Regions from separate parts of the Homo sapiens genome. Here all the other regions are linked to region 3. The links come from fine-mapping of genetic effects on gene expression. A gene starts in region 3. Each other region holds a variant in brackets. All regions are shown on one strand. Distances are from middle to middle.

Region 1 (2,794 bases), 69 kb after region 3:
CAGGTGAGAAGAGAATGTGGCCCAGGAGTGTTTCTGGATCCCTGGAATACCACCAGGAGGTAGAATACCATCCTTTCTATCTTGGCCCCAGAGTGTAGGTGACAATACCTTTGGACTGGCAAGTTCCCAGAGGACAAGAAAATGACTTCTTTAGAGCAAGGATTTCTTGACACCTTTTGGGACCCATCATGTTCCATTTTTTTTAAACACTAAAAGAAAGATTGCTTTCCCCGCCAAATAACAGCATGAACATTATCTTAAAAGGCAAAGACATTAATTTCTATGAAGCCAGGCACGAGACACTTTTGGGTGTCACAATAAGAATGACAATACGTTCTGATGTTGAGCACAGAAGGAGGGTGCATCAGTGAAAATTATGACAGACAGCATGACGGTGCTGAGAGGCAAGCTACGGATCCAAGCCCGCGACTGCTCAGCCAGGATCTCTGTTCCCTATGGGAGCAGTGAATCACCTGAACTTTGGGTCAATGGAAGAAGTAAAATGCATAACACCCTAATCCTAAGACACAAGTCCTGACCCCCTAAACCAAGGTTTTCAGCACTTTGCTAAAAACACGAACAAGCTCTAAGCCTGGCAAAGATGGCAATACATACCCAGGTTGTGGAAGACACTGCAGAGGTGGCCACTGGTCACGCTGGGCAGTTGAGCTGCTGAGAGTGCCCTGCCCAGCCAGAAATGGTCTTTAATACTCTTCCCCTCTTTCTTTCAGTTTCCCTTCTGAAAAAAGATGCTTTTGTCTTTCGTTCTCCCCACCCTGCATTCAGCTAAGGGTTTCTTATAAATCACCCAGATTCTCAGAAACACTTGAGCTCTTGACCAACCTTCTTGATGAGACTGTCCAATCAGGGGTGGGTTGCCTGGGGGGCCAGGTTGAGACCAATGAAACCCTCTTGAGAATCGAGCCATTAGCTGGTCATTGCATCAGCCACCCCTCACCCCCCGCTGGCCTCCAAATAACCTCCCCACCCTCTTCCCGTTCCCCACCCTCAGCGTCAGTGTGACTGATTTTGTGTAGTCGTGGGCGGTGGAAAGAGAAACTGTAAATTCCCCGCATCTGTTCACCGAGGCGGCACAGTGCAGTGGAAAGATCAGGAGTTCTGGGGTCACAGACGCCTGGGTTTCAATCCCAGCTTGGACTTATTCGAAACCTTGGGCAAGGGTCGCATTACTTTTCTGCTTCCCCTTCGGTTTCCTCATCTGTGGAATGGGCATGGAGAAGCCTGCTAACATTACCGTTGAGGGGACTAAGTGCAACACTACGCAAAGCCTCTGGCACATGGCAGGCGCTAAATAAAAATGGGGGCCTCTCTCCTCGGGAAAAGCGAACAGGCGGAGACGATGAAGGGTGCCAGTGGGAAAGGGAGACGGGGTGGGTCGGCGGCGCTCAGAGGAAAGGGGCGAGGGGTCGGTGGCAGGCTCCGCGCCTCACAGTGCCAGAACGCGGCGGGCAGCAAGCCGGGCTCTAAGGATACTCCCGGGAGGGCCAGGCCACTGGGCGCCGCGCCAGCGTCCCTCCATCACTCCCTCCCTTGTTTCCTCACTCCGCCCCGGCCTTACTCCCCTCGCTTACCCTGCCCAGCCGGGCCAGTCAGCGCTCCCGGCTCAGCAAC[C/G]GGCTGTCTCCTGGGCGTCCGTGGAAACGCCGTCCGGACGGAACAACTTCCGGCCCGACGGCGCCGTCATTGGCTGTTCGCGCGGGGGCGGGGCAGAGGCCGCCACTGATTGGCTGGCGGCCGCGGCGTCGCGTCGGAACGTGACTGGATGGTAGTGTGCTGGCCGGTCTGCCTCCGGGAGAACCGAGCGCTTCCGGTGCGTGTGGTGAGCGGCGGGCCCCGGGCTGGAGGGGCCGGGACTGGGCAGCGCCTAAAGCGCCCCGTGCCGCTTAACGCGGTCTCTCATAGCCGCTCGCCTTCCTTTCACTTCCTGTTCCTTCAGAAAGCGCTGTGCCTTGGACCAACCTTACTTCTTACTATTGACAGCTCAGCTAACTCCTATTCATCCTTCAAAACCCATCTCTGGTCGTATCTTGTTTGTTGCTTTCATCGCTCTGGGGCCTCCGGGGGGATCTGTGTTTTGTGTTTGATTTCCACCCACACCAGACCCAGCATAGGGCTTGACAAAGAGTACGTAATCAGGAAATGTTTGTTGAATGGGAATATCCTATTTCTTTTACTTCCTAGCATCTCCCCCTCCCACCCGTTTGCATTCCAGAAATATTTTTAGACGCTGGGCATTGAATAGTGAACAAAACACAGAAAGTCCTGTCCTCATGGGGCTGACTTGCTGATAGTGACTGTCAGAGTCACTCGCTCCTTCCTTAGACTCTTCTCCAGTGTCCCTGCCTTCCCTTCCATCTTACTGTCTGTTCCTCTTCGTTTAATCCCTCATCTCCTTCCAGAGGGAGCACGGGCACCCTGGTGGTGGGAATCTGGGTGCATGGTGGGTGGTGCCTGGGCAGAGGAGTTGAGAGTGGCCTCGGGACCAGGCTTAGCATTTAGAGAACAGAAATGCCAAATTATTTGCAGTGCACGGTTCCATTAGTTTATAATTAGTCTTTCATATTATATTAGTTCCATTGGAGATGAGCTGGCTGGCTGGCTTTAGAAGTTGTTGTTGTTGTTGTTGTTTTTTGAGACCAAGTCTCGCTCTGTAGCCCAGGCTGGAGTGCAGTGGCGTGATCTCCACTCACCGCAACCTCCGCCTCCCGGGTTCAAGCAATTCTGCGGCCTCAGCCTCCAGAGTAGCTGGGATTACAGGCGCGCACCACTGCACACG
Region 2 (2,794 bases), 27 kb after region 3:
ATTCTCCTGTCTCAGCCTCCCGAGTAGCTGGGACTACGGGTGCCCACCACCACGCCTGGCTAATTTCTTTTTGTATTTTTAGTAGAGATGGGGTTTTACCGTGTTAGCCAGGATGGTCTCGATCTCCTGACCTCGTGATCTGCCCGCCTCAGCCTGGGATTACAGGTGTAAGCCACCGCGTCTGGCTGTCCTCACTGTCTTTACAACCTCTATGGTAATGACCAGAGAGTCCTGGGCCTCAAGGCCCAGCCAGTGTGACCCTGGGGAGGGCACATCTGCTGGTGCTGCAGGCGGGCACTGGGGGCCAGAGGCAGGCCTGTTGCTTGCCAAGTGCCGTCCTGGAGCAACGAGCTGTTCCACAGCCACCCGTGTGCTCAGCCACCCTCCTTCCTGTCCCTGCTTCCCCACCCAGTGCTGTTTTGTGTGCTTCTCAGGCACCATCTCCTTTCAGGCAGGCTCAGCTGGTCTCTCCTCCAGGCTGGGGGCCACGGGACAGAGAGACTGAGCTGGGTTGGCCCCACATCTGTCTGACAAGTGGACATTACCAGCCAGAGCAGGAGTGCTCTTCCGGCAGAGCCTCTGGCACCACGGTGGTGCAGGCACCCGGCCTCATGCCTCATCCCCAAACACTCATGGGGCCACTGCAACCTGTCCATCCTAATCCAGACACGCCCATGTCTTTCAGGGAACATTTCTCTCAGAAACCACTGGTTTTTAGCAAAACTGGGGAGGCTTGGGAGACATGTGGCTCCCCTGTGTCCTGACCAGCAGTGGCCTTGGGCAAGTCACCTGAGTATTGGACCCAGGGCACCCCTCCTAAGACCCTAAACAGGAGGCATCACTGCTTTTTACAGGGGAGGAGATGGAGGTCCTGGGAGGTTAAGTGACCTGGCCAGAGTCACACAGCCGGTGAGGGGAGAAGCTGGTTGGTGTTGGCTCACTCCTCCCTGGGGCCAGGGTCTCACCAGGGCCCTGCCAATAGATGCTGTGGCTGGGTGGACAATGACAGCAGCAGCTGTCACTGACTCCATTTGTCACCCCTCATTGCACTTGCGTCACAGGTGCAGTAGAGCGACGAGGAGTCATATTAGTTGCCCAAGGCAACAGGCTAGTGAGCTATGTGGCCTCTGTGGGTGGCTCACCCCCACTGGCCATAGCCAGCCAGGTGAGCAGGGGAGGGCAGGGGTGGGGCCCAGGCCAGCAGGAGTCGAGACCGGGAGAGGAAGCCTACTTGAGGTCATGGTGCACCCGGGTACCTGAGTGGGACTCGAGCCCAGGCCTCCAGCCTCCAGGGTGGGAACCGTAGTTCCCTCATTTGTAAAATGGTCCCTCTGTATGTGTGTGGAAAGCACCAAGAGTCAGGACAGACTCGCTGTATCAGAGTCACCCTATGGCCTTGGACAAGTCATGTTCTCCTCTCCTAAGCCTCAGTTTCCCTACTTGCAAAATAAGGATGGGCCGGTAGAATGAGCCCAGGGCTCCCTTGCAGCTCGGCCTCTGCCCTGGGCCTCATGTGAATGGGGCCCGA[C/G]CTGGCTCCCAGCCTGTGCTCCCCGTCACTACACAGCACCACTAAGCACCCCACGGCCAGCCCCTCCTCTGAAAAGCGAGGACAACCTCTGCTTGCATTCTCCATCAGCTGCTGGAAATGAGAAATGTGGTGTGAGAGGGAGCCCGCACCAGGATGCTGCTAAGGGCTCTCCCAGCACAAGCCCATTCCTGGGAGCTGTGGCACAACACCATGGGGTTCCTGGGACTGTGCGCTTTCATCCCCAAATTTTGACTCCAGCAGACTCAAGGTCATCCACAGAAGGGTGAGGGGAGGGGTCTCTGCTCCCTCCTCAGACCTCCCAGACAGAGCACAATGACAAGAGCAGGAGCCAAGGAAGTTTATTTACTCTACTGGGTGACAGGAGGGCAGAGTGCTCCAGAGGAGACCCAGATACATCAACCAAGGACTTCCCTGAGATTTGGCTTTGCTCTTCCAGGCCTGCACATGCTGCGTGATGAAATGAGGCCTGCCTAGACATCTGTGAGGGCCTCGAGGGCTGCTGCCTCGACTTTCTCCCTAGCTAAGTCCACCCGTCCAGGGACACAGCCAGGGCACTGCTCTGTGCTGACTTCCACTGCAGCCAAGGGTCAAAATGAAGCATCTGCGGAGGCCAGGACTCCTTGGCATCGGACACAGTCAGGGGAAAAGCCACCCTGACTCTGCAGGACAGAGGGTCTAGGGTCATTTGGCAGGAGAACACTGGTGTGCCAAGGGAAGCGAGCATGATTTCTGGAGTGGACTACATGCATGGTCTGGAGTTCAGTAAACTGGAAAGTTTCACCCCCAAGTCTTAATTTAATCAAAATTGCTGAACTCTGTTCAATCTTCATTGTTAAAAGCAGCTTTAAAGCTGGGTGATTTCTTAGTCAAATGTATAACGAAGCTTTTACTTATCAATTTCTTTTTGGGAGGGGGCATGGGCTGAAATACATCTTGTGCTCAATAAACCTCCCCACATCAATATTTCAAAGCACTTTCTAGGTTACAATAATGACATTTCAATTCCATATACGCATACATAGAATATATATTTTTAAACAGAGTGGGTCTTAAGAGTATACTTGGAACCCTCGGAGTCCTCCATGGACAAGAACAGGGTGGCCCATGGACTTCCAGCCAAAGGCTCCACTGTGGGGCTGCTTTGGGGAGAGACTCACAGCTGGACTTCTCTATCCGACCATGCAATGTTAGCCAGCACCAATTACCCACAATGCTTTGCCCATAAGAGATAGAAATAATGGAACT
Region 3 (2,639 bases):
TCAAGGTAAAAGCAGAGAAGCCAGAGGCCCAACAGGGAAGTGCCGTGCCCGACGCCCACGGTCGGGGCATGGGAGAGCCTGGACTGCACGCCCGCCCGGGCCCTCCCGGGGACAACTGCATGGGAGGAACCCCAGAGCCGCGACCGCGCCTCGGAGAAGGTGCCCCACACCGGCTCGCCCGACCCACCCACCACCCCCCTTCCGCCCCCAACAGCTCACAAAACCGCGTAGGAAGGGGCGGCGTTCCAAGGCGTGACTCGGCGCCAGAGTGGTTCAGTGCCCTCCAAGGCCAGCCGAGTAGGGGGTCGGCTCCGTAGCCCCAACCCCGCTGGATGGCTGCGCGGGACGGGGTGGAGTCAGTCCCGAAATATACGGCCGGGGGAGGGGACCCTGCTCCCAGTGCGCAACGGATGGGGATGGGGGAGGGGAAGGAGATGAGCCCGGGACCTCGGCGCGGGGGGCAGTGGGGCATCCTCCCGGCAGTCCTGGCCTCCGCTCAGCCACGGTGCTGCCCCGGCGCCCCAGACCTCCCGTCCGAGCGTGCCCAGAGAGAATAAAGACACCTGCCCTCGCGGACAGCCCGGGCCTGAAGTCAATTTACGCCCACGAGACCCGCCCGAGGCAAGAGAACTGTGGTCCCCATTCACAGACGCGGCGACCCCCGCCAGCGGGAAGCCGCGAGGCCAGGGCGTGCTGGTGGGCCGACCTCCCTCCCCGGACGCCTCGCCCCGGCCCGGCCCGGCCCGCCGCCTCCTTACCCCCCGCGCATCCAGCCAAGAAGTCCAGCGCCATGGCCGGGTCCCCGGCGAGGCCGCCTTTCCTCCTCGTCCTCCCCCTGAGGCCCCTCGCCGGGCTGGGCGCCGTCGGGGTCCCCGAGCGCGCGGTGCCGGGGCTGGGCCTGGCCGCTCCTCCTGGCGCGGAGCCCGGGCAGGCGCGGTCAGGGATGGTGGGGATGGCGGCAGCAGCTAGACCCGCGCTGGTCCCTCGGCGGCAGCTGACTCGCTGGATCCCCTCCGGCCCGCGGTCCCTCACCTCGGGCCGCGCGCCCCGCCCCTCGTGCCTGCCGGCAGGGCCCGGGTGGGGGCGCCGAGTGAGGCCAATGGGCGGGCACGGCGCGGACAACACCCCGGGCACTGCGCTTCGCCGCCGCGCCTCATTGGCCGGGCGTGCGCGGGAGGCGGGGCGCGGGGGACGTGGTGGGCGCGCGGGCGGGGCGCGGGGACGCCTCAGACAAAGAGCGCGCTGGGTGCGCAGGTCCGGCGGGAGGGGACGCGCGGGGTGGCGGGGTTGAGCCGAGGACTCCCCCACCCGGAGTACGCGGGGTGGCTCTGGTCTGGACCGGGTCGGGAACCGGACCCTGGGTTCGGAGTCCGGCGCCGCCGCAGAACCTCAGCGCCCTAGTCTGTGCCGTGCGGACCCTGCCGCGAAAACGGCCGTGGAGCGCCGGGACGTTCCGAGGCCCGCAGACTGGGACGCCGCTAGTTGCGAAACTCCGCGAGCGGGAATCGCCCGTGGGGAGCCTCTGCCCGTCCCGCCTGCGCGCCCGCGGCGGCGGTGGCCTCCGGGGCTTCCGGACTCCTGGCCGAACCCGCCGGGTTCTGGGGGTCGGACGCGCACGGGCGCTTCCTGCGGAGCCTGAGGCTGGGATTTGGGCGGAGAGCAGGGAACCTTAAAAGGGAAAGGGGCCATGGGCAAAGGGCGCAGCAGGCCTTCGGGCCACAGCTCCTTCCCGAGGACTGCGGGTCGCGGGAGCCGCGGAAGGTTGTGGAGAGAGGGAGGTTCCTGGACTGGGCTGCAGAGTGGAGTCGGGCCAGATCGCAGCGCCTCCGTCAGCGGCGGCCGGACGGGGCGAGACCGGAGGGGCTCGGTAGGGGCCGCGCTCAGGCGCTGAAGTCGGAGGGTGCTTGGCTCTGGGTCACCAGGGTATCCATGGGCTGCGGGGATGAATGAGAGCCGAGTCTGACTCGGCCCCCCAGGAGTCCCTGACATTCGCAGTGGCAAGGGACTGCCCTGGTCCCTGTGGAGCGTCCCATTCGGTGACTTCCCACCAGCCCTTCCCCAGCGCCTCTGGAGGTCCAGACTGTCAGGTTGGAGCCTGGGAGCAGGGACGGGCCAGGCGCTTTCTCTTCGCTGTAGGAGTCAGATCAGCCTTAGGCCGGGCCCAGCTTCCTTCTTTAGGGCCTGCAGGCAGGCAAGGCCACACCGTGTGCCACGTTTCCAGGTTTAGGGTCACATGGTTCTTTTATCCAAATTCCAGTGGGTACCTACCTCCTGGAGGTGCAGGTCGAAAGGTTCTGTGTATTTGGTACTAGGACACACAGGTAGGTGTTGTCAGTAGTGCAGCCTGGTGCTAGGGGCAGGGGTCCCCAGTGCTCATGTTAGTTTCCTTTTAGAGTCTAAGTAGAATGTTAAGCAGAGACCCAAACCCTAGGTCTGCTGACTCCTAGTCCAGGGCTCGTGATGGCTGGTGGGCCCTGAACGAGGGGTCTGGAGGCCTGGGTTTGAATATCGACAGCCTCTCTGACCCACTTGGTTGCCTCAGGGAGGCAGGTGTGCGGATGGGGGAGAGTGGCCCATGGGCCAGAAAAGCAGTGGTATGGGGGCCCCAAGAGAAGCCCAGACCCAAAAGGGCAGGAGCT

The links.
Region 1: its variant is fine-mapped to the expression of SLC25A29 in whole blood (TOPMed, PIP above 0.99).
Region 2: its variant is fine-mapped to the expression of SLC25A29 in whole blood (INTERVAL, PIP 0.92).

What each region holds. Positions count from the first base shown.
Region 1 is chr14:100,374,668-100,377,461 of GRCh38, forward strand. It overlaps WARS1 (tryptophanyl-tRNA synthetase 1), which reads right to left and starts at 680. Exons shown (of 11, transcript NM_004184.4): 1 at 616-680. It overlaps WDR25 (WD repeat domain 25), which reads left to right and starts at 1,818. Exons shown (of 7, transcript NM_001161476.3): 1 at 1,818-1,828. RefSeq lists enhancers at 632-771, 782-1,141 and silencers at 1,652-1,711, 1,902-1,951. The variant C/G (reference allele first, on the strand shown) is at 1,633.
Region 2 is chr14:100,331,919-100,334,712 of GRCh38, forward strand. WARS1 (tryptophanyl-tRNA synthetase 1) reads right to left here. Exons shown (of 11, transcript NM_004184.4): 11 at 1,872-2,794. Among named protein-coding and RNA genes, the nearest start is that of SLC25A47, 10 kb to the left of the region's middle. RefSeq lists an enhancer at 1,029-1,078. The variant C/G (reference allele first, on the strand shown) is at 1,529.
Region 3 is chr14:100,305,441-100,308,079 of GRCh38, forward strand. It overlaps SLC25A29 (solute carrier family 25 member 29), which reads right to left and starts at 1,004. Exons shown (of 4, transcript NM_001039355.3): 1 at 759-1,004. The coding sequence starts at 792. MIR345 (microRNA 345) reads left to right here and starts at 2,419; the gene lies at 2,419-2,516. RefSeq lists enhancers at 1-506, 1,715-1,784, 1,815-1,984 and silencers at 835-934, 995-1,464, 1,555-1,624.